Regions from separate parts of the Homo sapiens genome. Here all the other regions are linked to region 4. Evidence: fine-mapped expression QTL. A gene starts in region 4. Each other region holds a variant in brackets. All regions are shown on one strand. Distances are between the middles of the regions. Region 1 overlaps SH3PXD2B (SH3 and PX domains 2B). Region 2 overlaps SH3PXD2B (SH3 and PX domains 2B). Region 3 overlaps SH3PXD2B (SH3 and PX domains 2B). Region 4 holds the start of SH3PXD2B (SH3 and PX domains 2B).

Evidence for each region. PIP is the estimated chance that this variant, and not a neighbour inherited with it, causes the effect.
Region 1: its variant is fine-mapped to the expression of SH3PXD2B in whole blood (INTERVAL, PIP above 0.99).
Region 2: its variant is fine-mapped to the expression of SH3PXD2B in fibroblasts (GTEx, PIP 0.98).
Region 3: its variant is fine-mapped to the expression of SH3PXD2B in esophagus muscle (GTEx, PIP above 0.99). The same link has a PIP of 0.9 or more in gastroesophageal junction, lung, sigmoid colon, skeletal muscle and subcutaneous fat.

The regions. Positions count from the first base shown.
Region 1 is chr5:172,380,094-172,388,049 of GRCh38, reverse strand. It overlaps SH3PXD2B (SH3 and PX domains 2B), which reads left to right. Exons shown (of 13, transcript NM_001017995.3): 5 at 5,923-6,014. Among named protein-coding and RNA genes, the nearest start is that of SH3PXD2B, 70 kb to the left of the region's middle. The variant AG/G (reference allele first, on the strand shown) is at 4,197.
Region 2 is chr5:172,408,938-172,416,893 of GRCh38, reverse strand. The region is part of intron 2 of SH3PXD2B (SH3 and PX domains 2B); the gene reads left to right. Among named protein-coding and RNA genes, the nearest start is that of SH3PXD2B, 42 kb to the left of the region's middle. RefSeq lists an enhancer at 3,692-4,193. The variant A/G (reference allele first, on the strand shown) is at 3,544.
Region 3 is chr5:172,422,473-172,430,428 of GRCh38, reverse strand. It overlaps SH3PXD2B (SH3 and PX domains 2B), which reads left to right. Exons shown (of 13, transcript NM_001017995.3): 2 at 7,933-7,956. Among named protein-coding and RNA genes, the nearest start is that of SH3PXD2B, 28 kb to the left of the region's middle. The variant C/T (reference allele first, on the strand shown) is at 4,275.
Region 4 is chr5:172,449,438-172,457,393 of GRCh38, reverse strand. SH3PXD2B (SH3 and PX domains 2B) reads left to right here and starts at 2,869. Exons shown (of 13, transcript NM_001017995.3): 1 at 2,869-3,116. The coding sequence starts at 3,042. RefSeq lists an enhancer at 3,382-3,903.

The DNA of each region.
Region 1 (7,956 bases), 69 kb after region 4:
GGCAGCCTTGCAGATCATTCCTCAATAAATGGGTATCCACATGGGAAAAAAACAAAAAAGATAACTTATCCCTGCCTCACACCACACATGAAATCATTTCCAAGAAAATTAAAGACATAAATGTAAGAGGCAATATTACAAAATGTTTTAGGAGATAACATTAGGAAAATATATTTATAATCTCTAGGTATAGGATTTCTAAAGATACAAAAAGGATACCAAGCACAAAAAGATTGGTTTATTTGAATACATTAAATTTAAGAACTTCTGTTCATCAAAAGACACAATGAAAATATGACTTAGCTGAATCCTGTCACACATACAAGTATTTATTATCAAGCCACCTCATAAATAGCCACTCAAGTTTTTCTGGAAGCTCCTTGAAATCCCAGTTGTCTGTCTGACATCTCTTTGCATGAATGATTCCTCAAGGCAGATGCAACCACATTCTAGAGGCAGGATCAGCTCATCCTAACCGTGGTCTGACAGTAAAATCCTCAAGAAGAGGCTGAACCCTAAATCCTAGACCCAGGGCCCCGTTCTGAAGGGTGTACGGTACTGGGCTCACCAGGTTCTGTTTGTGCAAGGGCCAGAGTGTCTGAGAATATTTCTAGGAACATTTCACCAGTAGAAAACAAAAATTCTAACAACAGTTAAGCTAATGAATAAAGGCTGTGGCATTGATCCACAATGAAGACAGCTAAAGCCCTGAAGCAGCCTTTTCTGAAGTGTGGACTTCTGATTAGAGTCTTTCACTTGCACCAGTGTTCATTCTCAATGAGGGGACTTCAGGTAGTAACTAAGCATCATACGGTGTAGCTTAAATGGAACACACATGCAAACATACACACTTGTGAGTGTGTGTGCCCATGCTGTAGTATTTTAAACTATGGGCAACATAACAGTAGTATTTACCAGGCTCCAGTCACTTGAGACTTCCCTTCTGGAATTCTGTCATACACCACCCACCTATATTATTATTCATATTTTTCTTCAACTCACTTTTTGAACTTCTTCAGATTATGAGACTGGCTTGCTGCCTACTGTGCTGAGGGCTTCCTGACTTTTTGAACTTCTGAAAACAATATGTCTTCGAGAAAACTTTATATCACAACCATAACATAAAACTGGTATCAGCTCACGCCTGTAATCCCAACACTTTGGAAGGCCGAGGCAGGTGGATCGCTTGAGCCCAGCAGTTTGAGACCGGCCTGGGCAACGTGGTGAAACCCTGTTTCTACTAAAAAGACAAAAATTAGCCAGGCGTGGTGGTGCACGCCTGTAACCCCAGCTACTCAGGAGGCTGAGGTGGGAGGATCTCGAGCCCAGGAGGTGGAGACTGCAGTGAGCTGAGATCCCACCCCGTGCTACAGCCTGGGCCACAGAGCCAGACCCTGTCTCAAAAACAAGCAAACAAACAAAACAAAACAAATGGGTATCATGTGCCTGCCATAAAAATAAAAACAATAAAACAACAACAACAACAGAAAACGTTTTTAAATCTGGCTAACTGCTGTTACCTGCCTACCGGAGGCTCTGCAGAGCCCGTCCTGCTCTCAGGAAGCAAGTTAGACAAGTGTTACTTCTCTGGGGCATTCTTTTTTAAATTAAAGAGGGTTGAAAGAGAATTGAGAAAACATGAACCTTCTCCCTAGCCAAGATATTGTCATTTAACATAATCATCTGGCTGCCTCTGAAATCGCCTTTGGAAACACTATATTCTTGTACCTGGGACAGTATAGAGAGCCAACAGGGTTATCCAGTGTCCATCAAGCAGCTAATATATGATGGAAACCATACAACCACTTCCTCACTTATTCTATAGCACAGCCCTCCAAGATGGGTGTTCTTTATTTCCGCTTTACAGATGAGTAGACTGAGGCTCAGAGAGGCAGTGAGACTTGGCCAGAATCTCACAGCCAGGAAGTGACGAGGCCAGAGTCAGGAGCTGGTTCTCTCTGACCTTTATTGTTACCCTCTGCAAGCAGGACTTGCTCTCCTCTCTCGTGCCTGCATCAGCCACATCTGTCCAAAGCGCCAGGATCCGTTCCAGAACAGGACTGAGTTTGCTGGAGCTGTGGTTCTTTGTCACTACTGACAGGACTTAGGACTATCCTGGAGTCTTTCAGAAGCAGAATGGTTTCTCCAGCCCCGGGTCATTTTTTACTGGTAGCCAAGTCCATCCCAAATGAAATGGGCCAACATCAAAGCATTCAGCCCTGCCTTTTATTAGTAACTTGACTTCTTTTATGGTTTAGGGGTTTGGTTTGGCTTTTACTTCCTAGGCATAGCTCAAAACCAGAAGAGAACTTGGCATCATCAGGAGGTTTCCATGGGCCTCGTTGTCCCTTCCCCTTCTGGTCCATTTGGGGCCTCTGCCCATCCTGGGAGGCCCCCTCCAGGCAGAGACAGTGACCACCTCCAGGGGCCATTCCCCACACCCACCCAAGTCTCCTCTAGCAGAGACACATGGCCAGCTCCGGGCTGTTGCCTCGTGTTATTTAGGGTCTCCCCAGCACTGTCTAGGCACGTAGGGAAGGTGAAGGAGGAACAGCTGCCACCCTGCCGCCTTTTGTGGATTTAAGGTAGAGGTTTGCAGTCAGCCTTTCCTGGACTCTCTAGACCAAGCCACCTCAACAGAGCCTCCATTTCCCCATCTCTTAAATGGGCCAGCCTTCCCAGGGTTACATAAAGTGACACAGATGAACACGTTTCAGGAGCCTCCCAGTGCTAAGCCAAGGTCGAGGAGTGCTGTTATTGTAGTCTTGGGGGGAAGCCACAAGATATTTGCACACAAAGCAGCCAGGACACACCACAGTCCAGCATATAATCAGCTCCTTCATTATGTGGCTCCAACTGCAAGGGCTGCAGGATTTCAGAGGAAAAAGAGGCCCATGGGGAGGGGGGAGCAGACAGCAGCTCATCCAGGCCAGGAGAATGACCACTCACTGCTTGGAACCAGAAAAAGAAGGGGGACCAGAAACAGGAGGTGAGGGAGGGAAGGGCCTGCTCCTGTCTCTGGGACTCCCTGATTCAACTCTGGAAACAGTCCTTAAGGATTTGCTGCAGAGCAGGAGCTACTTAAAGGCTAATTTTAAAAATCGGTGAGCCCTTTAGTCACCCCTCAGAAGGGTGGAAGGGTGGACAGTGACCAGGGAAGGTGCCCTACTAGACCATCCACGTCCCTCATGATGTGTTTATCCATTTTGAGTCTGGAGCAGATTGCAGCTCGGGGACTTAAAGTTAGAGCCTGATTCAAAGTAATGTAGGGTTGGCAACCCAAGTGTCCATCGACAGGTGAATGATAAGCAAAATGCGGTGTATCCAGACAATGGAATATTACTCAGCCTTTAAAAGGAAGGAAGTGTTTACGCCTGCTGCAAGCATGAACCTTGAATGGATGAGCATGCTAAATGACATCAGCCAGACTCAAAAAGACAAACACTGTATGATTCCACTTATATGAGCTACCTGGAATCATCAATCCCTAGAGACAGAAGTAGAATGGTGGTTGCTGGGGGAGGGTGGAAGGGTAGTTGTTGTTTAATGGGTACAGAGTTTCAGTTTTGCAAGATGAATAGAGTTCTGTGGATGGATGGCGGTGCTGGTAGCACAGCAGTGTGAATGCATTAAATACTTAATGCACCGTACGGTACACTTGAAAATGGGTAAGATGGTAAGCTTTTTACTGTGTGTATTTTACCACAATTTAATTTTTTTAATGGGAGAAATAATTGTGTAGGGTCAACATATCCCCAAAGCCCTGTAAAAGGTGCCACACTGGAGGCCTCCATTCATCTCTCCGTTGGTCCACGAGAGCCCAGTACTGCTGCAGCGTCGGCACATCACTTTGGGAGTTGGGTGGTGAGCTATTAAGGGCTGGTTATATAGAAAATGCAAGACACAGGCCGGGCGCAGTGGCTCACGCCTGTAATCCCAGCACTTTGGGAGCCGAGGTGGGTGGATCACGAGGTCAGGAGATCGAGACTATCCTGGCCAACATGGTGAAACCCCATCTCTACTAAAATATAAAAAATTAGCCGGGTGGGGTGGCGTGCGCCTGTAATCCCAGCTACTAGGGAGGCTGAGGCTGGGGAATCACTTGAACCCGGGAGGCAGAGGTTGCAGTGTGCTAAGATAGCACCACAGCACTCCAGCCTGGTGACAGAGCAAGACTCTGTCTCAAAAAAAAAAAA[AG/G]AAAGAAAGAAAGGAAATGCAAGACACATCTCTTCTATCCCCAGACCCCAGAGACTCAGGCTCAGCATGGTGAGAAGGCTCATGAGAGGCACCAGGGAACTGAGGCCCTCTAGGAGAGAACAGAGTCCAGCCTCATGCAGAGCACGCACTGCTTGGGCAGCTTGGCTGGCAGAATCACCTGTGCAATTCATGCATATGCACACGTGTTCTCTGCACAGGTGTGTGCAACAAAATGTATGCGTGAACCACCTGAACCACCCTCAGATCTGCATCCTCATTACCCTGGTCCAGGGCCCGGGCCAAAGGAGGCTTAAGTAAATATTTGTTAAACTGAGCTGTTTATTCATGATGGCCATGTCTGAGTTTCGGATCCTTCAACGAGCAGAGTGTACCCTGCACTTCTGTTGTATTTGGCACAGAAACTAGTGCAGTGCTGAGCACAAAGAAAATTTTTGCTCATTGAATCATTGAATGAATACCTGTTAGTAGATAAACCAGCTTTGTGGAGGTTAGTAAATAAACCAGCATTGTGGAGGGCTACACAGCCAGTGAGTCACTGGGGCAGATTAATGTGGAATTTGGCCAGTGGAAGATCTGTTTCAACCCCTCATCAACTTGGAGACTTTGAACCTCTATCCAAATCATAAAACAGTCCCTTCACTTTAATGCTTCAGATTCGTGAGTTAAGACATATATGTGAGCATGTTGGAAATAACCTAAAGATTCACCAGTAGACGAGTTGAATAAAGTATGACACAGCTGTACAAAATCCAGTATCCAGTATAGATGATGTTATAGAAGAATAATGAAATGAGCCAGGTGCAGTGGCTCAAACACCTGTAATCCCAGCACTTTGGGAGGCTGAAGTGGGTGGATCACTTGAGGCCGGGAGTTCGAGACCAGCCTGGCCAACATGCCGAAACCCTGTCTCTACTAAAAATACAAAAAAAAAAAAAATTAGCCAGGCATGGTAGCACATGCCTATAATCCCAGCTACTCAGGAGACTAGGGCACAAAAATCGCTTGAACCCAGGAGGCAGAGGTTGTGGTGAGCCGAGGCTGCACCACTGCACTCCAGCCTGAGTGACAGAGCAAGATCCTGTCTCAACATAAATAAATAAGAATAATGAAATGGCATGAAGTTGACAATTTATAGCTAAGTGAAAGCATAGGTTTACTAAATAGCATGTACAGTATGGTCTGATTTTGCCTAAATATGGACATATTACTTGAACAAATATGCCTATAATATATGCGTGTATATCATACATTGTGTGTGTGTGTGTGTGTGTGTGTTGTTCTCCAAACCAGCAGCATCACCAGGAAACTTTTTTAGAAATGCACATCCTCAGCCCCCTCCGCAGAACTACTGGATCAGAAACTCGGGTGGGGCTCCACGATCTGTGTTTTAATAAGCCCTCCAAGTGATTCTGGTGCCTTCCCGAGTCTGAGAGCCACTGGTGGTATATGGCATTCCTAACACCCGTCTCCTTCCTTTGCTTTTTGGGTTTGCTTTTGTGTTTGTATGTGTGTGTGTTTGAGACAGTCTCGCTCTGTCACCCAGTCTGGAGTGCAGTGGCGCGATCTCAGCTCACTGCAACCTCCGCCTCCCAGGTTCAAACAATTATCTTGCCTCAGCCTCCCGAGTAGCTGGGATTATAGGCGCGTGCCACCATGCTCAGCCCCCTCTCCTCCTTTGCACTCACCTGCGTCTCTCTTCTCCAGGCCCTCATCCAGCTGCCCCCCTACATCTCTCAGTGTGATGAGGTGCTGCAGTTCTTTGAGACAAGACCTGAGGACCTGAATCCCCCCAAAGAGTAAGTTTGTTTGTGGGCTTCCCCAGATGGAGCCCCACAGCCCTCCCTCCTGCCAGTCCAGCCACCCCCAAGTAAAGCAAAGTGCAGCCAAAAGTGGGTTTCGTCGGCTGAGCCCCTGTGAGACCGCACTTCACTTAGCCTTCAGAGTTGCTGTAAGTGGGTAGCGATCGTCCGTTTGACAGGTGAAGGAAACTGGCTGAGTGCCACTCCTGTCATCCCATCATACTCTCCACCTGCCCACAGCACTTATCGAGGTGTGTCGGAACTGAGCAGGCTGAGCCCGTGAGGCAGGGGCTGAGCCGTAGATTCATCTAGCTTCTGTCCACAGAGGTGGAGGTGGGTGTGCTCGGGAACTGCCAGGGATGTGAATGCGGGAGCAACCCAAACCAACGAAGACCCCACTGCCGGTGAGCAACGGGGCCGGGATTTCATCCTGACCAGCCAGGCTCCGAAGCTCTCCAAAATGCCCACCACAGCCCTGCCTCCCTGTCACTTCTCCCTGCAGTGGACAGGCCACTTGCCCAGACGCCTGTCGCTACACAGCCAGCAGCCCCAGCCACACAGTGCACACCACATAAAACTCTAGCACCGCCTGCTTACCCGCACTTACGCACCAACACTCTGGCCGGCCCGGGTGCTTTGGGGAAAGCAGGAAGGGATCTGGCTAACGGAGAAATAGCAGTGGGGAAAAGAGATCAGCCCAAGGTGCTGGGAGTGTCCTGGGGTCACAGGAGCAAGAGCGGGCAGAGTTTGGGGTCCGTCTGGGCTCATTCGAGAAGGGCTGAAAAGTACCAGCCAGGCTCTGTTCCAGAAGTAGATGCTGCTGCTCTTGGCGCTGCGTTCGCTGGATGCCCCAGGCAGCAGCCGTAACCAAGGCTGAGTTTGCTGAGCAGCCAGCGTGGCGGGCAGTGTGCCAAGCACTGTATGTGTATCAAGAGAGAAAGACACATGCTCCCTTTTGGAAATGATCTGCTGGAATCACAAAAATTTTTTAAATAGACTTGTGAGGAGAAAGCATGAAAGTGTTTTAACAAGTGAAGTCAGGCCATTTATATTTATACACACACACAGCGACCTCCAAAATCGAGTTCACAGACTTCCGAGTACACCACTCAGGACTGATGGTTTGCTAGCACACAGATGAGTAGACCTAAGTTTCTGCAATAAATATATCCCAATATGCACCATTTCCTGTGACGAGCACGGAGCGAGTAAACACAGCTTCTCATAGTGAGCGCACAGAAGTGCGTGGTTTTGGAGTGAAGGGAGACTGTAAGAGGCAACAGTAAACCTTTGAATCGGATGTCACAAGGGAATGCCTTACCAACACGGGAGCCAAGACACAGTTTCATAAATTTGAAAATAATCATAAAGATACAGAATAATATAAATCTGATAATTTGGGGTGTTTCGCTCGTGCTGGCTAATGTTTTTGTTCTTAGTGTCTTTGGCGTTGGTGTCTGGTAAGCATTTCCCAATTTGTGTCGCCATCATGAAATATGGGGAAATAGTCTCAAAGCACCTTTGTCTCCAGTCCTCCTGGGCTTACAGGATTGAACTGCCATTCAGGCTCATAGCCTCTGGCTTCACTTATAATTTCTACACAAGGTAAATCAAAGGATACAGAGCTTATTGTGTTCCCTTTCCACTTCATTTTCTCACGAAACTGCCCAATAAAAACTGTCATTCCCTCACGCCTGTAATCCCAGCACTTTAGGAGGCCGAGGCGGAAGGATTGCTTGAGCACAGGAGTTCAAGACCAGCCTGAGCAACATAGTCAGATCCTGTCTCTACTAAAAATAAAAAAAAAATTAGCCGGGCATAGTGGTACGTGCCTGTAGTCCCAGATACTCAGGAAGCTGAGATGGGAGAATTGCTCGGGCCAAGGAGGTTGAGGCTGCAGTGAGCAGTGATCGCCGCCACTGCACTCCAGCCTGGGTGA
Region 2 (7,956 bases), 40 kb after region 4:
CTACAAAAAATTTAGAAATTAGCCAGGTGTGACGGTGCGCACCTGTAGCCCAGGCTACTTGGGAGGCTGAGGTGGGAGGATCCCTTGAGCCTAGCAGGTCGAGGCTGCAGTGAGCTGAGATTGTGCCACTGCACTCTAGCCTAGGCAACAGAGCAAGACCCTATATCAAAAAAAAAAAAAAAAAAAAAAAAAAAAAAGAGAGAGAGAGAGAGAGACTCACAGTCTCTATGAAAAGGTCCTTTTTAAAAAAAAAAAAAAAAAAAGTAGAGGCCGGGCGCAGTGGCTCACGCCTGTAATCCCAGCACTTTGGGAGGCCGAGGTGGGCGGATCACAAGGTCAGGAGTTCGATACCAGCCTGGCCAAGATAGTGAAACCCCGTCTCTACTAAAAATACAAAAACTAGCTGGGCGTGGTTGTGGGCACCTGTAATCCCAGCTACTCAGGAGGCTGAGGCAGGAGAATCATTTGAACCCGGGAGGCAGAGGTTACAGTAAGCCAAGATCGTGCACTGCACTCCAGCTTAGGCAACAAGAGCGAAACTCCGTCTCAAAAAAAAAAAAAAGTAGAGACAGGGTCTCACTTTGTCACTCAGGCTGGAGTGCAGTGGCGCCATCACAGCTCACTTGCAGCCCCAAACTCCTAGGTTCAAGTGATCCTCCCACCTTAGCCTCCCGAGTAGCTGAGACTACAGGTGTGTGCCACCACGCCTGACTAATTTTTTAAATTTTTGTAGAGACGGAGTCTTGCTTTGTTGCCCCGACTGGTCTCAAACTCCTGGACTCAAGTCACCCACCCACCTCGGCCTCCCAAAGTGCTGGGATTACAGGCCTGAGCCACCGCGCCCGGCTGGAAGTTCCCCTTTATGAAGATTCACCTTCCAACTTGGTTTCCTGACTTGCTTACCTTAGAAGGGCCTGATAGTGATGCCTGATGCTCTTACTTGACATCTGACCACACGTCTCATTCACCTGAGGGTGCAGGAAATGGGATAGAGCCCTGGGCTTGAAATAAGAATACCTGGTGTCGGGTCCTTCCCTCTGTCTTACCAGCTGTGCGGCCTTGGGATGGTCACCCAGCCTCTCTGATTCTCCCTTTCTGCCCTGGCTTGGGACTACTCTGGGGAGTCCATCAGTGTGGCAAAGGAAATTGGCATCCAGGCAGAGCACTGGGGATGACTGGAGTGCCCAGAGAGCTGAGGGTAGTGCCTAGCAGAAATGTGGCTGGGTTGAGCCACATAGTAACAATATCGGCAGTCACTAACTGGAATGTGCCAGATGCCCATCTTATATGCCATCTCATTCTGTCCTCACAGGCATGAGGTCAGTATTGTATCCATTTCACAGATGGGGAAACTGAAGCTCAGAAAGACAGAGTCACATGCCCAGAAAGCAGCATGGCTGGGATTCAAGCCCAGGTGTGGCTGGATCTGAAACTTGCACTCCTAACCTCCCTGCCTCCTTGGGCCCCGGGATTGCCTTTCAATCTGCCTATTGAAAGATAGATTTACCCACATAGAGTCCTGCCTATGGCTGCCCCTTTTTAAGGCCCATTTGGCTCCTCCCTCTAAGATACAGGCAGAGTCTATCCACAGAGGGCAGTTCTGACCAAAACATGAGCCCCTCTACACTGTACCGTGCAACCTTTGTCTTCTGAGTTCCCACTGGTTCATTGTGTCCCCCAGGCCAAGGGTCATGGTCATCACTGGAGCCAGGGCTTCCCTCACAGAAGGCGCAGTTAAACATTTGCTAACCTAGACCTCGAGCTGCCACAAGGGACCCAGATGGATCTCTGCTTTCCATAAGCTTCCAGTGTAGTGGGAATAGGCACATGTTCTTTCAGATAGAGAGAAATCCAGGTGTTCACAGAGGGACCTCCCTCCTAGCCAGGGAGCTCAGACAGGGCTCACTTGCTGGAGGAGGTGACATCTGAGCAGGGTCTTGACAATGAATAAGGAGTGGCCCCTCCACCGAATGGGGGAGGGCATTGCATGCAGAGGACACCTCATGTGCAAAGGTGCAGAGGTGCAATGGAGCAGGAGTCTTAGCTGGGCATCTTCCAGAATTCCAACATTGGCAGGGGGGCACAGAACCAGCTGAGTCACTCTGCCCGTGAAGGAGCCCTCGGGAGAAATGCCAGCCTCATCTGTAAGAAGGAACACTCCCTACGGGGAAGTTCATGCTGCAGAGATCCAGAGAAGCTTTTCTGGCTCCTCTCCTGCTCCGCACGCTGTGCCAGAGCGTTGCTGCTAGGCTCAGGGGCTTACGGCTCGAGCAGTTCTTGGACGCCTCAAATCACAGGTGGAGGCTGCATCTCCATCTATGCCTTTGTCTCTCCAGAGACTGTCCCAAGTCATGCAGCAAAAACCGCTTGTTTCCAGTTTCCATTGAGCTAGGACTGACCCATCCCCTTCTTTTTTTTTTTTTTTTTTTTTTTTTTTAAGATGGAGTCTCGCTCTGGAGTGCAGTGGCGCGATCTCGGCTCACGGCCACCTCCGCTTCCCGGGTTCAAACGATTCCCCCACCTCAGCCTCCGGAGTAGCTGGGATTACAGGCACGCGCTACCATGCCCGGCTAATTTTTGTATTTTTAGTAGAGATGGGGTTTTGCCGTGTTGGTCAGGCCAGTATTGAACTCCTGGCCTCAAGCAATCCACCCGCCTCAGCCTCCCAAAGTGCTGGGATTACAGGCGTGAGCCACTGCGCCCGGCCTTGACCTGTCTCCTTCTAAGACCCTGGTCCTTCCACCTCGGCCCTCTTGGGAGTTTAACAGCCCCAAGTGTACTTTTTAAGACTATCTGCCCATAAGCCCCCATGCTCCACTGCAGAGGCCAAAGGGAAGGGAGGGTTTTCTTCCAGCTTTTCTGAGGACAGGTCTAGGGGATGGCAGAACTGAAGAGTTTTCACTCCCTAGGCAGGCATTGCCTGGCCGGGAAGCCTTCCCAGCAAGATCCCAGCCAACATCTGGCCCAAGACTCCACCAACCATATTTATCCAAATACTGCCTTTACTCCATCCTCAGACACACTTTTTCTCCCAGACATTATCTTCTGGAATTGGAGTATGCCTCCAACGTGTTGTGCATACTTAAATGGAATAGTTTTCCCTTCCCACTAAAAGCTATTACCATATGGAAGGTGTGTCACTGGGAAAATACCGTAGTTGCCTTTTTCCACACAGTTAGCAATTCTTTATTTCTAAAATAGAAAGAGGCATGATTATCTTGGGCAGTTGCAGCTAAACTCAGGTCCAGGCCCTGTTGCTGCCACCTGGTATGTAATTTTTCCTTTCCCAGAGAGTGGCTGACCAAACCAGTTAACCACTTTTTCTCATTTGTTTTTTCATTCATTCATTCATTCATTTACTCATTTGTTCTTTGCACAAATATCTAACAGGTGCTTACCGTGTACCAGTGAGGAGGTAGTGGGGCAGAAGAGAGGGCCAACAGTAGTAAGGGGGTTGAACTGAGAAAATACAGGCCTGGACTTAGGGGGAGCAGTAAGTATGGAGAGAAGCGGACAGACCGGAGGTGGTGGCAGCCTCCGTGC[A/G]GCACGTCCATCAGGACACCAGACACATTGATATTTAGACCAGCTCGTGGAGGGGCCAGAATCCTCAAAGACAACAAACCACAGATGGTAGACTAGGCCCAGGGACACCGTTGTGTTCAGGGCCCTGAAAGCCCTGCCCCAGGACCTTGTGGCTTTCTGCCAGCCTGCAGCTGCGCATGATGGCCCCAGGCCTTTCTCCACTTCCTGCTCCGGCTCCGCTGGGACTTGGGGGTTTTGTGATATTGAGGGGGTAAACCCCTCCCAAGTCCAGCCTCAATGGCTGCTGCTAACGCAAACCACGTGTGGTGGCCAGCTTCCATGGCGTGTTCTTTGGACAGCGTGTCTCGCATTCCCTCTACCGCAAGCTGATGTCTTGAAAACTGCTGATGGAGTGTTCTCTCTTTCTTCTTGGAAGCCTGTGATGTGGCAACTTGATGTGACTCCTTCTCCCTTCCTACTCCCCAAATGACTCATCTTCCTCTTCAGTTTCCAGTCCTCCTCACCCTGAGCGCCACTTCTTTTGTTATCTGGGGGGAGCGCGGGTAGTGGGTTTTCTCATTACCAAGGATGACATGGGTTAGGCTTTGAGGAGCATGCCTCTGCTCCTGCTGCTGCAGACAGCCTGGGCCTGGTCCCTTGGAGAACCTACTTCAAGGCCTTTGGATGCCTAGTGTTACAGTTCTCTGCATAGATGCAATTGGTGGCCGTAAACCTGGACACACCAAGACCAGCTCGGCAAGGAAAGCTTGCAGGGCTCTAATCCCCCAGCATCTTATCCTGAGTCCTAGTCTTTGCAACTAGCAAACTCACAGATGGCCGTTGACATTGGACACAGTGATGAAGAAAACGAAATAAAATTGGATGTGGTTTAAATAGGAGGATATTGTGATAGTCCAGCCCTGCACTGTCCGGGATGGCAGCTGCTCGTCACATGAGGGTATTTAAATGTAAATTCAAGTCAATTAAAGAAAATTTTTAAATTGAGCTCCTGAGTTGCAGGAGCAGCATTTCACCTGCTCAATAGCTACCAGGAGGCTAGTGGCCACTGGATTGGACAGCAAGATGTAGAACACCTCCATGATGGCAGAAAGTGCCAGCAGACAGCCCTGCTACAGCCACGGGGCCACCCGGGCAGTCCTGAGGGGTTTTTTGCCAACCTTAAAACACAGCCTCACAATCAAATATTATTCAGCCTTAAAAAAGAAGGAAATTCTGCCACATGCTATAAAATGGATGGAGCTTGAGGACCTTATGCTAAGTGAAATATGCCAGTCCCAAAAGGGCAAGTACTGTGTCATCCACTTATTGGAGGTAGCTACAGCAGTCAGATTCATAGAGGCAGAAAGCAGAGTAGTGGTTGCCAGGGCCCAGGGGGAGGGAGAGGGGGGAGTCACAGTTTCAGTTTTGGATGATGAAGAGGTTCCAGAGATGGATGGTGGTGATGTTTACACAACATTGTGAATGTGCTGAATGCCACTGAACTGTACACCCAAGTGTGGTTGAAATGGTAAATCTTCTCTTGTGTATATTTAACACGATTAAAAAAAAAAAACCACACAGCCTTACAGACTACTAAAAGTTATCCCCAAATAACTTTCAAAATAACATATTCAATATGGGCAGAGTGTAAGGAGCGGGGATTTCTTGCTGAGCATCTGGTGTGCTCCCCAGAGTTTCCACATAGCACTCATTTACCCAGCCCCGCCGCGGAGCAGGCTGCGTCCCTCATCCTGCAGACGGCCAAACAGGCTCAGGGATGAAGTGTCTGGCCAAAGACACACAGCTGGCATGAGGAAGCATCAGGATTGAACCCCAGGGCTGTTGGGTCCCCAGCAGTCATGTCTGTGGTTAGACTATGCAGTATTTAAACCCAGATCTGCCACCTCCAACAAATAAAACAAAGGGAGGCCTTTCAGCTCCTTGGGCCATGCTGATCTGGGTAAAATCAAGTCAGGACAAAGGGCAAGAGAGCAGCTTCTTAAGACCAGGCAGTAGAGACCCCTCTGAGGACTGAAAAACACAGCAGTGGCAGGGACTCATTGGCTGACATGTACATTCAGGCAGGGACTCCAAAGGAACCCGGAGATTGGAAATAGTCATGTTAGGGTGGACAGATTACTGGTGCATTCTTTAAAAAAAAAAAAGTTCCCTTTAATGGTGTTTCATTGTCTTAACAAATAAAATTGAGAAGGGAAAAAGTAGATAGTGTTAGGCAAAAACCTATAAATCTCTAACATACTCCACAGCTGAGACTGATTAATGGCTCTGCTTTCGAAAAGAAAGCATGCTGTTCACATGTGCACAGAATATTAAACTTACCTCATCTCAGGCTGACTTTTGTGTTCACGTGACACTCTGAAGCTGCCTCAAAGAGTGGTCTTAGGCAAAAAGAATGGAATTTAGACAAAGATGCATGGACTGGCTGGACACACCACTTAGCTGTGTGACTTCAGGCAAGTTCACTGCCCTCTCTGCTTCTCAGTTACCTCATCTGTGACAAGGGGAATGTAACATTTATGTCACAGAGTTACTGTCAAGGTCACATGAAATCGTATATGAGAGGACATGTTCACTGTGAACTGTTATATACGTGTTAGTTGTGATTACTAATTATTATTTAGTATTAGTAATGTGAATATTATTCCTCAGAGTTACTTAGCAAACATCTCCTGAAGTTGCCTCCCAAAGCGTTTGCTCAGTTGCGTTCATTGGTTCAGCCAATTTTTTTTTAATCAGTAAACTTTAGTTTTTAGAGAAGTTTTAGGTTCTCAGAAAAATTGACTGGAAAGTACAGAGCATAGCCCCTTGTCCTCGCCACTCACAACCTCTCTTCATCGACATCAAGTTCAGCCCGTTTTTATTGAGCATCTACTATGTGCTGGCATTGAAGAGCTCTTGGATTCACAAAAAGAAGGCTGCCTTTTCCAGCAAGTCCCCACTGTGGCCTCACCTGTCTCTGAATGACAGTGGACCAAGCATTTCCACCTCACCAGGCAACAGAACAGGGGACAATGACTCAAAACCACAAATAAAACCACATGTTTAAAATACTGGCAAGGATGTAGAGAAAAGGGAACTCTTACACACAGTTGGTGGGAACGTAAACTAGTATAGCCACCATGGGAAACAATGTAGAGGTTCCTCAAAACACTGCAAAGAGAACTTCCATATGATTCAGCAATCCCACCACTAGGCATTTATCCAAAGGAAAGGAAATCAGTATATCTAAGAGATAATACATCCCATGTTGATTGCAGCTCTAGTCACAGCAGCCAAGGTGTGGAATCAGCCTAAGTACCCATCAGCAGATGAATGGATAAAGAAATTGTGGTATGGGCCGGGCACAGTGGCTCATGCCTGTAATCCCAGCACTTTGGGAGGCCGGGGCAGGTGGATCACCTGAGGTCAGGAGTTCAAGACTAGCCTGACCAAGATGGTGAAACCCCGTCTGTACTAAAAATACAAAAATTAGCCAGGTGTGGTGACCCATGCCTGTAATCTCAGCTACCGGGGAGGCTGAGGCAGGAGAATCGCTTGAACCCAGGAGGCGGAGGCTGCAGTGAGCCAAGATCGTGCCATTGCACTCCAGCCTGGGCAACAAGAGCGAAATTCTGTCTCAAAATAAAGAAAAGAAAAGAAAAAGAAAAAGAAAATGTGGTATGCATACACAATTGAATACTATTCAGCCATCAAAAATAAGGAAATCCTGTCATTTGCAGCAACATAGATGCCACTGGAGGACATTATGTTAAGTGAAATAAGCCAGGAACATAAAGTTCTCACTTACATGTGGAAGCTAAAAAAGTTGATCTCATAAAGTGAAAAGTAGCACAGAGGATAACTAGAGGCTGGGGAGGGTAGGGGGAAGTGGGGAGATAGGGAGAGATTTGTAAAAGGAAACAAAATCACAGCTAAATAGGAGGAATAAGTTCTAGTGTTTTGAGTGTTTTTGGTTTTGTTTTTGTTTTGAGACAGAGTTTTGCTCTTGTTGTCCAGGCTGTAGTGCAATGGCGCGGTCTCGGCTCGCTGCAACCTCCACCTCCCAGGTTCAAGCAATTCTCCTGCCTCAGTCTCCCTAGTAGCTGGGATTACAGGTGCCCGCCACCACGCCCAGCTAATTTTTTTGTATTTTTAGTGGAGAGGGGGTTTCACTGTTAGTCAGGCTGGTCTCGATCTCCTGACCTCAGGCCATCCACCCACCTCGGCCTCTCAGAGTGCTGGGGTTACAGGTGTGAGCCACCGCGCCTGGCCAGTTCTAGTGTTTTATAGTACTGTGGGATGACTATAGTTAACAATAGCGTATTATATAGTTTCAGATAGCTGGAAAGAAAACATTGAATATTTCTAACACAAATAAATGATACATGTTTGAGATGATGAATGTGTAAATATGCTGATCTGATCACTACATAT
Region 3 (7,956 bases), 27 kb after region 4:
GGGAAACCTGTGCCCCAGGCTCAGGCACAGTGGGCCTGTGTTCCCAGGACTATGGGGGCCATCCCCCTGCACCCCTGTGGGACCCAGAGAACAGAAAGGACAGGTGGAGAGGGCAGAGCCCAGGGAGATGGGTGTGGGCTGGAGAGAGGTGGGACGGGCTGTGGGAAGTTCATTTGTAGGGAGAAGGAGCAGGGACAAGGGTTCCCTCACCTTTGTGACCTTCTGCTCACAATGATGCTGCTGCTGACAGTTTCTCTTTATGGAACATTTACCATATCCAGGCACCAAGCGAAAGAATCTACATGCATGTTCTCATTTCATCCTCGCCCCAACTTTGCAGTTAGTAGTATTGCAGACCTCATTTTTTACAAATGAGGAAACTGAGTCATGGGGGTTAAGCCACTTTCCCAAGAGCACAAAGCTAGTTGAGAAGGAAGCAGGATATAAATCGAGGCCATTGTGACCCTAGAACTCCACAGCCTCGCAGAACAGTAGGATGATGTACTGGTCACTCTGACAGTTAGGAGGGTGAGCAGACATCTCCCTGCTGGCCCATGCTCCAGCTGCAGCCAAGCTGGGGCATGGCATGGCAGGATTAGAGGTGACCTAGGTTAGAGTCCCTGCTCTGCACGTCATAGCTGTGCAACTGTAGGCACTGTACTTCTGAGCCTCCGTCCTTTGCTGGGAAAACATGGGAAGTGTTAGCCTGGCCTGCTGGCTCGGGGATTTGGAAGAGACCAAGTTCAGCCATCTACCCACCTGCAAAAGGATCCTGGCTCAGCACACCCCACCCCAATTCCTCCCACCCTCCCTTCACCACCAGTTTGGCTTCTCGCTGACTTAGAGGAAGTGAGGAAACCCGGGACTTCTGTTCCTGGTGAAACTGGGTTTGCAATCAGGTTGGAGAGTCTGGACTTGGTTAGATCACACAGGCCCTGCTGCTGAGATTGTGTAAGAAGAGATTTAAAGGGTAGATGATTCCGGCTCAAATCCTGTCTGGGAACAGAAGAAAACCTCCGTGACTCTCTAACCCCAGTTGTGGTTTCTGTGCTTCCTTGTTCCTTAAGCAGTCCCAGCTGCTCCCCCAAAACATGTTGCTCCCAAGGGGCGGGGGTGTTTGCAGATTGTGGTGAAGCAGCACAGGGGACAGAGAGGAAAAGCAAGGGGGCAGGACCACCTCAGCAACATGGCCAGGGTCCCTTTCTACAGACCAAAGGCCTGCCAAGGAGAAGCACTCCTCTCTGTGAGGGCTTGGCCTCCTGGCATCTCATTTTCTTCCCCATTTATTCACGAAGCCTAGATTTTTCCACCCTGCCCAGTGCTGGGCATACAGCAGTCCATTAACAAGACAGGCCAGGTCCTTGCTCGCGTGAAACTTAGAACCCAGCAGGAAATCAGACACTTGAGCAATTTCAGTAAAGCGTTCATTGGCTTTGTGATGGGAAAGTGGGTGCTAAGGAGTCCTATAGCAGGGGCACCCAACCTCATACTGGTGGGCAGGGAGCGGTCACAGAGGGCTTTCTGGAGGCAGTAGCATCTGAGCTGTGCCCTGCTAGTTGACTTGTAGAACATTGCCCATTCCAGATCTGTCTGCTTCCTTATGATGTCATTTATCTTGTTCCTCTGCCTCCTATATTTGTTGTAAATTAGAACCTAGGTCAAGAGCTCGAGCTCAAGTTAAACATTGTTGGCAACAATACCAACAGCAGATTGTGTATACTTCACATTGCATCACCTGGAGGGCCACACAGTAACTGGATTGTCCCTCTATCCATGAGGCTAGGTTTGGTAACCTGGTTAAGTTGTAGAGTTACACATTTTTCCCCTGGCTGGGAAAGCAATCATGGGGTTATACTTTGATACCGTGTGAGTGTCCTGTTCAACAGCCTTTCACCTGGTGGTTCAGCACCCACTGAGGATCTTCCCAGAGTGGCTGTGGCATTTTGCTTCCCCACCAGCAATGCATGAGGGTTCCAGTTGCCGTGCATTTTCATCAGCACTTGTTATTGTCGCTATTTTTTAATCGTAGCCATTCCGACAGATGGGTAGTGGCATCTCCTCCTGGTTTCACTTTGCCTCGTTAGTGGCAGTGACCATATTTCATGTGCTTCCTTGCCCTCCATATGTCCTCTTGCATGAAGTGTCTCTTTAAGTTTTGTCCATCTTGTAATCTGGTTGGTTGTTTCCTTACAACCAAGACTTCAAGAAATGTATTCTGCATAGAAGTTGTTTCTCAGATGTGCAGCTCATGTTTTGAAGGCTGTGCCATGGAGAAAGTTTTAGTCATTTCCAGGGCACATGACATGCAGTATGTAAATCTCTGCAGGAAATCTGCTTTAAAAAATTTTTCTTTGGCCAGGTGCGGTGGCTCATGCCTGTAATCCCAGCACTTTGGGAGGCCGAGGTGGGTGGATCACGAGGTCAGGAGTTCAAGACCAGCCTGGCCAAGATAGTGAAACCCCGTCTCTACTAAAAATACAAAAAATTAGCCGAGCATGGTGGCAGGCGCCTGTAATCCCAGCTGCTTGGGAGGCTGAGGCAGAGAATTGCTTGAACCCGGGAGGCAGAGGTTGCGGTGAGCCGAGATCACCCCACTGCACTCCAGCCTGGGTGATAGGGCAAGACTCCATCTCAAAAAAAAAAAAAAAATCGTGGTAACACACACAACATAAAACTTAACATTTCAGCCATTTCTTAGCAACCATCACCACCATCCATCGCCAGAACTTTTTTCATCTCCCTAGACTGAAACTCTGCACCCATTAAACAACAACTCCCAGCCAGGCATGGTGGCTCACGGCTGTAATCCCAATACTTTGAGATACTGAGGTGGGAAGATCACTCGAGCCAGGAGTTCGATAACAGCCTAGGCAACAAAGCAAGACCCTGTCTCTACAAAAAATAATAATAATAAAATTAACCAGGCATAATGGCACATGCCTGTAGTCCCAGCTACTTCGGAGGCTGAGGTGGGAGGATTGCTTGAGTCCAGGAATTTGAAGTTGCAGTGAGCTATGATCACACCACCATACTCCACCCTGGGTGACAGAGCGAGACCTCATCTCAGAAGAATGAAAAATAACCACTCCCCATTCTACCCATTCTGGCAACCACCATCCTCCTTTCTATGTCTATAAATTTGACTACTCCAGGTACCTCCTGTAATCATACAGTATTTGTTCTATTGTGACCGGCTTATTTCACATAGCCTAATATCCTCAAGGTTCATTCATAGGGTAGCATGTGTCGGAATTTTCTCTTTTTAGAGCTGAATGATGTCCCATTTTATGTCTAAACCACATTTTCTTTATGCACGCATCCATCAATGGACACTTGGGTTGTTTCCATCTTTGGCCTCTTGTGAATACTGCCACTGTGAGGAAGTCTTTAATTCCTTGGCACCAAGCTACTAAGTATTACCTGGGTTGGGGATGTAAAAAAGGAAAGGTCTACTGTGTTAGGATTGCACTGGTTGCAAGTAACAGACACCAAATCAAACTGGTGTGAACAAGAAAAGGACTGTTTTGTCTTGCATCTGGGAAATGTCCCGGATTCAGGCTGGATCCAGGGGTTCAAATGTTGCCACGGGGTCTGAGCCCTCCTCTCTCCCTCTGGCTCTGCTTTCTTCTGTGTGACAGGCGCTTTCCATGGGAAATTCCTGGTGTAGGTTCTCCCAGCAGCCACTGAGTGGGCAAAATGGTCTGTCCCCTGAGACTGCCATCAAAAGTCCTGGAATTGGTTCTCATCCGTCTTGTGCCCATCCCTGAGCCATCATTCATCAGCAGGGCTGTGGTTGGCTGGGCCTGGGAGGGAGACATGCCCACTCCCCTCATGAAGACCAGAGGAAGGATTCCCCGTGGGAAGTCAGGATTCTGTTACCAAAAGGAGGGGAGGGGAAGGTACTAGACAAGCAGGAACATGGGATGACCACTGTGAGGGAAGCTGAACGTTGCACTCCTAGTGCGTGCCAGGTGTTGGCCCCATCTCCGTTAGCTATTGTGGCTTACCCCTCAAGGGAGATTATTGTCCTTGTTTTAGAGAGAAGGGTGGGTGGCCAGAGAGGTGAATGCCTTGTGAGTTTCTCTAGCAGCAGAGCTGGCTCTGTGACCCAGGGTGTGTGCTCTCTCACCAGCCCCCAAACCCAGGACGGGGACAAAGCCCTACGCTAGGGCAGCTCTCGTTAAAAAATTAGGTCTCTGCCTAAAAATGCAGACATCACGTTGTGTTCAGGGGTTGATTCCAATAAACCAATTAGGCTTGCTGCAGAGTCCTTG[C/T]ACTGTATGTTCAGAACTTTAAAAATTGTAAACAAGAGATCAAGGATGAATTGTGTAAGCAGAATTTTTTTTTCCATCTATGGGAGTGTGCTTTTTGTTGGTTTTAAGAAAAAAATCCATTCTTTGACAATTTTTCCTTGTTTTTTAATCCCTGTTGGCAGTGTCCTTGACAGTCATTCAAACCTAGCTTAAGCATCCCCAGTGGTGGGCACCTTTGGTACAGTATTTTCCCTTTCTGACCCTCAGTTTACCCATCTGGCAGGTGCAGCCCTTCAATGAGCTGCATTCTTTGGTCCGCTCCAGCTCTAACTTCCTGTCAGTGGTGCAAAAGATGCCTTACTGGTGTCCCTGCCCCTCTTCAAGCCGTTTCCACACAGCAGCTGGAGGGATACCTATGGATATTTTTAAACGTGTACCCTGGATCCTGTCGCACGCCTCCCCCACCCCTTCAAGCTCTTCAGTAGAATGAAATCCAGACGCTTCTCTGTGGCCTGCAAGCCCCTCGTCATCAGCTGCTGCCTCCTCCCCCGCTCAGCCCCTTCCTCCCGCAGCACTGTCAGCTGTCATACTCTCCTGTTCCTCACACAGGCGAGCATTTTCCTGCTGCCACATCTTCGTTCCCACTTTTCTTTTTCCCTGTACGCCCTTTCCTCAGCTCTCGACCAGCTCCTCACCCTTCAGATCTCAGTTCAAAGGTTGCCTCCTCAGATAGGCTTCCCTTCCAAGGCCCCCTTATCCAAGTAGCCAGCCCCTCCACCTACCACCCTCATGCAGACTTCGGGGTCCTGCCCAGCATGTCGGCAGGTTTGCTGGTTTATTGCCCATCTCCACTTAACAAGGGCAGGGTCTGGGTCTGCCTTGCTCCCCATAGTATCTCAACCCCTAGCAGAGGGCCTGGCATGCAGTCGGTGCTTAATAGATGTTGAAGACTGAATGAGTGAATGAATGGAAACCATTCAAAATCTCCATGCTGGAGTCTCGGTGAAGCAGGGTGGAAAGCTAAGAAACAGATTTGAAGTCTTCTTGTTAAGTAAAACATCAGGACTGTTGAGCGTTTTTTCACATCACAAAGTCGCCTTTCTGAGATGATGACTGACTCTTACCTCCTAAAGGATGCCGTGGCCCCTTCCCTGGCTCCATGAGTTACCTAGGAACGGGGAGCGCAAACAAGGAAGAAGGGTGGGCTGGATGCCCAAATCCTTGGTGTCAAAGGAGCCTGTTTTTGTGAGCAGGGATGGGGTAGGCATTGGGTGGTCTGAGAGCAAGGTGCTGAGGTTTCATGAACTTTTTCTGTCTTCCTGGCAAGGTGCTCAGAGCTTTTCCTCTTGTGCTAATCACAACTCTGTATGCTTGATGACCCCATTTTACCAGATAAGAAAGCTGAGGCTCCAGGAGTTAGGAAATTGTGTGAGTCCAGAGCTTCTTGACTCTAGAGCCCAAGCTCCCCCATTTCTGCCATGTTTTGAAATATAATCTGTGTTGGGTTTGATGAGGCCATGCCAGGTGAACTCCTTAGCGTGGCATTCAAGGTCACCTCCAACCTTGTCCTGATTTATCCTAACATTTTTCGTCTCTTCTCACCTGAAGAACCTTCTCCTATAAGTCCATGATATTCACACTGGTGTCTGGCCCCAGCCCCTGAAGTTGTTCTATCTTTTTCTGTTTGGAATGTGAATGTTCTCCTAAGAACTCATTTGAAAAGAGACTCTGGCTAAAACCACTGTGGAAACCGCTGCCAGGCACAGTGTGGCTTCACCCTGAGCTGGTCTTTGTTCTACCCTCATTCCCCTCTACCCACAGCCACTGCCTTCCTCTCCTGCTGTCTAAATCCTACATGACCATCAGTTACACTGTGGTGGCTCCAGGCTTCAGAGATCTCTCTCCTGCCCACTTCCGGTATCAACCTGGACTGGATTACGTGGGTCAGAAACCCAACTTGAACTGGCCACAAAAGTTATTCAAGACAGTGGATGTGGCCCAAGACATAATTATTGGCCCAGGAAACTGGACAGTCCAGGAATAAATTTAGCTTCAGGCAGAGCTGGATGTAAGCTTAGACTGTGTCATCGGGATGGTGGCTCCTTTCTCAGGCAGGCTCCCCCCCACCCCCAGTGAGGATGGGTAGCCCCCAGCAGCTCCACATCTTGACAGCCTGTCAACCTCAGGAGAAGAGCTTGGCTTTCTCCAGAGTTGGAGCAAAAGTCCCAGGGCGGGCCGGGCGCGGTGGCTCAAGCATGTAATCCCAACACTTTGGGAGGCCGACATAGGTGGATCACTTGAGGTCAAGAGTTCGAGACCAGCCTGAGCAACATGACAAAACCCCGTCTCTACTAAAAATACAAAAATTAGCCGGGCACGGTAGCGCTCGCCTGTAATCCTAGCTACTCGGGAGGCTAAAGCACGAGAATCTCTTGAACCCGGGAGGCAGTGAGCCGAGATTGTGTCACTGCACTCCAGCCTGGGTGACAGAGCTAGACTCCCTCTCCAAAAAGAAACCAAACCAAAAAAGTCCCAGGACAGACTCCTACTGGCTGTGATTGGCCCAGCTCAAGTCACATGTTCTCCCTTCAACCAATCACCATGAACAGAGAATGTGCGCCCCCCCCCCCAACCCCGTATCCAAGTGGGTGAGCTGAAGGTAGGGAAGGAGGATTCCAGGAGTCAGTCATCTTCACTTATGTATGCATTGTCTCTCCTTCTAACCGTCACCTCATGGAGGACAGGGACACTGCCTGTGAAACCCCAGGGCTTCTAACAGCACTGAGCGCCTTGTGTTTCTATGACATTTCTTTGTTTCCAAACAGCTTTCACTTGTGCATATATTTTAATTGTCACAACTACCCTATAGCAACAGATAGTTTATGCAGTCCAGGAATGGGTCACAGGTATGCTGATCCCTTAGCCCTTAGGTGTCTACCTGGTGTGTCCGGGGCCACCAAAGGCCCCAGCCAGGCACCTCTGACCTCTAATAGTCACCTCAGTTTGCCCGGGCTTGTTATCAATGTATTGTTTTCTGTGCGTGCCGTGACGTGTGACACAGGTTGGAAGCACAGCCCACTGGTTTATAAAATGGTCCTTCATCCTTAATTTCATCAGCACCTCACATCTATCCTGGGAGGCAGAGGAGGCAGAGGAGGCAGAGGAAGCAGGTGCTGTTAGCCCCATTCACAGGAGAAACTGGGACTCGGGGAAAAAATAACTTGGCCTAGGTCCTCGTCGGTGGAGACAGCATGATGGGCTGGCCTGTGGAAGATATAAGATGGCCAAGAGCTGCACGTCTCCGTGACTTCTCCTGATGAAAGTCAAGGTTTTAGGAATGACTGGCAAGATAGCCAGCCTGTCTCTCACTGAACTGAGCGGGTAGTGAGGAATCCTGGCAATGCCGAAAACAGCAGCTTCTCCTGAGCTGATGTGGTGCCACTGCATCCCCATACTTGATGTCATTCATCCTTTGCACAACTCTGTTGGGGGTTATTACACTCATTTTATTGAGGAGGGAGATGAGTCTTACAGCAAGCAACTTGTCCAGCCAGTCATTGGCAGAGCTAAGGCTGAAACCCACGTCTTTCTGACTCTGAGTCTTGTGCTCCCCCTGGGTCCCAGAGATTGGGAGACCACCTTCTGGTGTTAACACCCATCTCCTCTGTTGCTCCCGCAGGTCTACATCATCCGGGTCACGTGG
Region 4 (7,956 bases):
AGGGAATGCGAAATGCCACAGCCCCTGTGGAAGACAGTTTAGGGGCTCCTCAAAAAAAAATTAAACATAGAAGTATCACATGATCCAGCAATTCCATTTCTTGGTATATGCACAAAAGAATTGAAACCAGGGACTTGAACAGATATTTTTATACCAATGTTCACAGCAGCATTATTCAGAATAGCCAAAAGATGAAAACAACCCAAGTGACTGTTGACAGATGAATGGATAAAGAAAAAGTGCTATATACATATAATGGAATATTATTCAGCCATAAAAAGGAAATTCTGACACATGCTACAACATGGATGAGCTTTGAGGACATTATGCCGAGTGAAATAAGCCAGACACAAAAAGACAAACATTGTGTGTTTCCACTCATATGAAGTACCTAGCATAGTCAAACTCATAGAGATGGAAAGTAGAACAATGGTTGCCAAGGCCTGGAGGAGGTTGGGGGGCAGTGGGGGGGGACTCAGTGTTTAATAGGGACAGAGCTCCAGTTTAGGAAGATGAGAAAGTTCTGGAGAGGGATGGTGGTGACAGTTGCACAACAATGTGAGTGTACTTAATGCCACTCAACTGTATGCTTTAAACATGGTTGAAATGTTAAATTTTATGTTATGTATTTTTTACTACAATAAAAAAGTAAAACAAAGGAAAGATACGTAAAGATGCAGGGATAGCATCTTCTGCTACTGGTGGTTGTGGGGGGACCTTTGTCTTCCCCAGACAGAGGAGACGGACACAGCCAGCAGGACCCACCTCTGCCACCCATGGTGTGGCTGGGGGCAGGTCTCTCTGCCTCTCCGGAAAAACCCAGGAAGCTGGCTGATTCAGAGAGGGCCTCTAGCTTCTGCCTTCTTAGGAAGGCTTGGCTCCTAATAAGGCAATGCACGATGTGGCAGGGACGGAAAAGCAGACCTTCACTTCTTTGGACATTTCCAATGAGGCCTCAGGACCCTCTGGCTTGGGACTGTACTTCAGAAGAATGTGCCTTACAGGAATTACATGAGTGAGGGTCCTGGCACCGAACAGATGCCACCCTCAAGCTGGGTCCATGAAGACAGTTTAGTAAAGGGTCAATGTATACGGGTGTGGGCGGGGCTAAGGAAGCACCGAGGATGGCGTAGTACCCAGGGCTTGCAACAGCAAGACTGTCACTGTCCTGAGCAGAAAAGTGGCTTCAGGAACCCTGAGAGAGACCATGTGAGAAAGGGCACCTTTGGTAAAAACAATCGGGGAGGAGGGGCTTAGGGATTAAATACCCAGACCTCCCTCTCTCCTCTTGCCCTCAATCTCCTGCCAGGCCCTTCCACTGGCCAAGCCAAACAGGAAGACCAGGACAGAGAGCTGTCAGTGAAATCCACACAGGCCAGCCTCTGGGGCTGGAGCAGGATGGTAAAGTCTGGCAAGGAAGTCAGAGGAGCAAATGGAGGGGCGGATCCAAAGTGAATCAGCCCAAATCATCCACGTGGCCTGGCCGAGGCTGAGAGCCGTCCTACCCTGGATAAGCCCACCCTTTTCCAAAGGCTGATCCTGGACCGGGGTGGGAAGTAGCTCTGTCGTGGCATGGAGAAGAGTCGTACGGTTTGTTGAAAAGAGCCCCCACTTACTGGCTGTGAAAACACTGGCCAGGAGCCTAAACCTCCCATCCATGCATTATATATTCATTTATCCATTCATTCAGCCAACATCTCCTGAAAGTGACTCAGTGCCCAGCCAGTGCTAGGAGGCACTAGATGAAGAAACGAGGAGCTGCCCCAGCCACGGCAGCTTCAACGTGTGAGATCCACCTAGAGCCAGGCAGTGACGGGCTCCATCCACCGGCTCCCTGACTCTGGACCTTCACTGATGTAATTCCTGTAAGGCACATTCTTCTGAAGTACAGTTCCCAAGTCAGAGGGTCCTCAGGCCTCATTGGAAATGTCCAAATGTCTGGAGGCCGTCCTCTGTAAAAACACCTTTTCCTCCTAGAGTCTGCCTGAGGATGCAAAGACAGCATTTGTGAAAAGCAGGGGCCACGGGGCCCAGCGAGCAGTTAAGTGCTCCGCAACTGGAAATCGATGGCCTTGCTAACAAGCACCCAGCTGCCCCTCACACATAGTCACCACCCTTTTATCCCCTTTTGTTGCTTCCATGGCAATTACATTGCACGTATGCGCATTTGTTGCAGTTTTTCTCTCCCTCACTCCCCATGTCCCAGACTGAGGCTGGGGGAACCTGGTCACGGGTCTCTTGCTCCTCCTGAATCACCAGGGCTTGGGGTGGCTTTAGGAACGCCAGCACTCATACCATGGACTGCACTGCGGAATGGCTTCACATGCACTTAATCCCGGGCGCAGCACCGGCAGGCAGGCGGTACTACTGACACGTGCTACAACATGGATGAGCCTTGAGGACATTATGCCGAGTGAAATAAGCCAGACACAAAAAGACAAACATGGTGCTTGTACTACTAGGCTCATATTATAGACGAAGAGACCCAACCCAGAGAGGTTAAGCAACTTGCCGAGGGCACAGAGTGGAAAAGCGGCAAAGCCGGGATTCGAACCCGGGTGTCCGGCTCTCCAAACTGGCGGTGGATGGCGGCTGCCGGAGCGAGAGTGCTGGAATGAATCGATACGTCAATCAGTGAACGGGCGACGGGGTCAGTCCAGTCCCCTCCCCCGGCGCGGCGGCTCAGCACCGGGACAAAGGCCGGGCGGGGGCCGGACGTGGCCGGCGGGGTTCGCGCGCGGTGGGCGGGGGTCGGGGCCGGGCCCTTTAAGGGGGGCGGGCCGGCGGCGCGGGGGGCGGTGCGGGGGGCGGTGCGGGGGGCGGTGCGGGGGGCGGGCCGGGGGCGGGCGGCGGCGGCTGGGCCCGGCTGGAGTGCGCGCCGAGCGAAGGGCGGCGGCGGTGGCGGCGGCGGCTCGTGCTCGGCCCCGGCTGCGATTGCGCTCAGCTCCAGGTTCCCTGCCCGCGGCGGCGCGCCCCCAGCGCTCCCTGCACCCCGCGCCACCCGCACCCGCGCTCGGCCCGCTGCGGGCGGAGGAGCGGCCATGCCGCCGCGGCGCAGCATCGTGGAGGTGAAGGTGCTAGACGTGCAGAAGCGGCGGGTGCCCAACAAGCATTATGTGAGTGCGGCGCGGCCCCCACGCCCCCTTGAGCCCGCGCCCCGTCGGGGGCGACCGAGGGCCCCCGGCTTGGAAAACTTCTGCCTCCAGCGCTTCCCGTCCCCTCCTCCCCTGCTCTCCCCTCGGCTCTGCGGCGGCGCTGCCCGGGTCCCTCCCGACTCCTCCTCCCTCCCTCCCCTCCCCTCCCCGCTTTTGCCTCGTTCTCCCCCTCCATCCCTTCCTCCCGCCTCGCCCCCCTACTCGCCTCCCTGCGGCTCCTCTACCCCTTTCTGTCTTCTCCGTGTCCCCCCAACTCCCGTCCTGCTCATCTGTGGAAAAGTCTGGCTCCAGCCGGTGAGGGGTCTGAGACAGAAAGCGGGAGAGACAGAAGTGCCTGTTCTCAGGCCGCCCGCCTTGCCCCTCCTTGTCCAGAGGCGCGCAGACCCGCAGTCCCCAGCCACAGGTAGCCCCTCTAGGGTTCGCCGAATTTGACTCCGTTCTTTGGCAAGAGCCGGCCTGGGCGATGGAGGAGATCTCTGGGAATGGATCATTTGAGTGGCTACGCCTTTAAAGGGTTAAAAACATCCCCTGCCCCCTCTCTCCAGTAACTTCTGTTTTAAAATGTACGAAAGTTTTCTCCTGGCATCTCCCTCTGGAACATGGGAATCTTGTTTGGAGCTGGCAAGGACTTGAGAAAATGGGACAGTAGCGTCGTTTTGCAGATAGGAAGGCTGAGGCTCAGAGGTTGCAGGTCCTGGAACATAGAGCTGCATTCGGGCTTCCCTCCCTCCAGCAGGGGTGCCTGGGGCTGACGGTGACCTGCAGGTGGAAAGTGGCTTCCGCAGCAACCTAGGGGACACGTCTGCAGATTCAGGAGGCCCTGGGACCACCTCGCAGGTTCTAGGTGGAGATAAAGGGGATGTGGGGTGATGGGCCCACATGAGGCCTTGGGGAGGGCCTCATTACAGCAGGGAAGGGGGCTATAGTGTCTCTGGCGGTGAGAAGTGGGCAGTGGCGGAGCCTGGCTGCAGAGAAGTTAACCAGGAAGGGAAAAAGAGTAAGAGGGAGGGAAAAAATCCTAACAAAGAAGTATAGAACAATGAATAGAAAAGGGCGTTGGCTGGCTAAATTAAGCTCCTTGGCCTCCCTGGAAGTCGTCTTCAGATCTTTTTTTTTTAAGAACTAATTCTTACAAAGTAGATCTGCATGCCTTCCGTGAATAGCCTGTGAAATTCTGAAAGGAGATAGCCGGGAACCCACTCCGCGCTCTCCACAAGAAAGGGTGTGCTGTGTGAGTCTGTATTGTTATTGGCTGGGCAGCCAGTTATTCAGCCCTTAGCCAGGCGGTGGGAAGCTATTTCCTGGACCTGTGGCATCTTTATATAGAGTGAAGTTTCCCTTGATTCCAGAGCTGAGCTAAATTGTCTTTTTTTTTTCCTTCCTTTTTTTATTTTTTGTTAACTGTTTTCAAATGCTGCCAAATCTTAGTTTCTTGTTTGAGCCTGTTAGCGTGTAAGTGAGTTTGCCTCTTTGGCATGAAGACAGTTTTCACCAACATGGCAACTGGAGGAAGTCTGGAATTCTCCATGCCACCTCCCACCAGGTCTGTGAGCTGGCAAAAACGAGAATAGATACTGCCACCGAGGCCCGGCCATCATCGTCCACGCGCCCTCTTCTGGCCTCTCCTATCACGCCCATATCAGGCAGAGGGCCTTAAGCCCATTTGACAGATGAGGAAACCAGGGCTCAGCAAAGTGAGGTCCCACGCCTAAGGTCACAGTCAAGAGCCAAGCAGGGATGTAGATCCAGGCCCGCTGGACCCCAAAAGGACCACACCACTTCCCACATCCGGTACCCCTATAGTTTCTCTGAGCAAAGTCCTCTGAAAAACTGGGAAATCTCTCTTATCATTAGTGAAAACCTGGAAGCTTTTCATTCTCTGCTGTGTCAGCTCCATCCTTGCCAGTTTTTTGAAGGTTTTGCGCTTTGAGAACCGTCTTTTGAAGCTTTCAGCCACTTTTTGGGGGCCCCCTGAGACAAGTTTCTATGTTAAAACATAGATTGGGATTCAGATCTTGGCCTCCCAGGTTGTAGCTGTGTCACCTCAGCCTCAGTTTTTTCATCTGTGTAATGGGGATGGTGGTGTCCATTTCCTAGAGGTAGCAGCCGCATGACAGGCTGCCTTAGGGCATTCCTAAATGCCCTAAAGGCATAGCTCCCTGCCTGCCTGTCCTGAGGTATCTTGTCACTGATTGGGAACATGCCAAAGTCACATGGTAGGGGGATTCATCAAGAACTTGTTTTTCTGCATGTGGCTTTAGTCACTCATGTGATTCAAGAGGCCCTCTCCCTTCTAGCCCAGGCTTCTGGGTTCATCAGATGAGGAGGGGCAATGGGCTGAACTGAAGCCTGAGTCATCCACAGGAACAGAGAACATTTACTGCCTTGATGGCAGGGGGGCCAAACCCAATGGAAACAGATCCCTGTGGTGGGCGACCGCTGCTGTTCCCAAGCTCCACCCCAACCCCTCACACAATCTGGAAAGAGCGGGCATGAAGGCAGCTATTGGCAGGCCTGGACTTTGACTCCCATTTGGTATCCCTTTTTCTGAAGCCACCCTGGAGAGACAGCATCAGCTGGGGAGTTGAACTTTTCTGCTGTGTGACCTCGGACTGGTTGGTTTGCCTCTCTGAGCTCTAGCTTCTGTGTAAATACTGCTACATCCCTCAAGGGCAGAGTTTCTCAAACTCAACACTTTTGACATTTGGGGCTGGATCATTCTTTGTTTCAGGGCTGTCCTGTGGATTGCAGGATGTTTAGCAGCTTCCCTGGCTTCTACCCAGCTAGTTATCCCCCTTCCCAATTGTGACACCCAAAAGGCCTCCAGGCATTGATTGCTGCATGTCCTCTAGGGGGCAGCACCACACACATTCCCACCCCAGCCACTGCGCCATAGACTATAAAGTCAGTTTTTGAGAGTCCTCTTCACTACGCCCCCTAATTTCCCACTACCCCTCTCCCCATTTGCAGCCATCTCGGCCACTACCTGCTCATCACTCACTTGCCTGTGAGGGACAGGGTCACAGGTGCTGTAGATGTCATTGGAGAACTGCACCCGGAGTTCAGGGCTGCCCATCAGGGCTGGGCCACCTGCTCCCTCTGAAATGGTGCCTTCTCCATGATCAGAATGGCGTCCTCTCCAGCCCCAGCCTCAGTCACCCGCAGGCAGAGACATCATCCATGGGCCCAGGGGCAGAGCCACAGGCCAGGTCTGGAGAATGCAGGGCCAGAAGCTCCAGGTGCCTGTGAGATCCTGAGAGGCTGATGACAATGAACCATGATATTGTTTGGAGAGCCTTTCCCTGGAGCCACTGCCCTCTGTTGGAAGCAGGGAGATGAAGATTTGGGGAGCTCCTGCCTTTCTCTGCCAGCATCTTTCCTGCACTAGAGCCCGAGGGCTTGGGGATGAATGGAGAGGGGCTTTTGAGGGTGACATCCTGGGAGACCCTCCCCAGCTAGCTTGTCTTCAGCTTGGGGGGAGGAAGAAGAGCTCCAGGTAGGATTTGTGGGTTTTATTTGGATCACCCCATTTCCCGCACTGGAGAGGGATGTACAGAAGCATTAGTGTCTCGGCAGCAGGAGCCTGGAGATGCTGGCCTGCTCTGTCTCAAGATCTTTAAATGTTAAGAGGAGCAGGATGGTCGGAATATTTATGGCAGCAAGAATAACAGTGGTCAAAGTGTCCTCGGTAACCTGAGCGGGGCACTGGGTCCCTTTCAAATGGGTATATTTTCAATATAGTAATACAATATTCTGCACATATATAGATACATAGAATAAAATAGCTATCTATATCTATATACCTTCCAAGTCTTCACATCTCTATATTTTGCCAATTTGTTTCAAAACTTTTTTGTTTTTATTTTTAAGAAATAAAGCATCGCAGATGCAAACCCCCCGGACGCCCTCCCCGATGCTGCCCCTCCCCCATAAAACCACTATCCTGCATTTGATGTTGATCATTCCCATGCACTTATAAAAAATAGACTAATAGATAGGATTTTTTTTAACAGCTTTCTTGAGGTATAATTTACATACCATAAAATTCACCCATTGTAAGTGTGCAATTCACTTATTTTTAAAGTAAATTTGCAGAGCTATGCAACCGTCACCACAATGCAGTATTATAACATTTCCATCATCCCCAGAAAGATCCCCCACGCCCATTTGCCATCAATCCCCTTCCCACCACAGCCCATGGACCTTTTAATGTTTTTCCCTTTTTAACATTCCCTAAAATCTTGTATTGTCGTGAATGTTTTAAAACTATAAATAAGCACTTTTGAGATCTATGTCGATCCAGCTAGCTCCAGTTCGTTTTAACTGTCGCTTACTATGGCATTGATGAACATGCCCCTGTTTTTTCAAGCTCGTGCCGGGAACTGTTAGGATGTTTCCAGCAGTTGACTTTCTTACAGCTGCCTCCTTGCACAGGGTCCCACGGTCTTGGGGTTTGTGTGTTTTCAACTTTGCACTTACATCCTCAGGGTTCCCTTTGCTCTCTGTTCTTGCTAACACTCCGTATCATCAGACTTTTCAGTCTTTGCCAATCCAATAGGTGCAAAAGTGGTGCTTGTTCACACCAGTGAGGTTGAGCAGCTTTTCATACCTTTATCGGCTATCTGAGTTTCCTCTTCCGTGAATTACCAGTTTTTGTCCTTTGCCTGTTTTTCGATATATTGGGTTATTTGTCTTTTATTGATTGGCGGGATTTATTTATACATTTGGGATACTAATCCTTCAGGTAATTACATTAGTTTTTTGTTTTCCCCTGGAGGAGTCTGCAGATTCAGAGAGGTGG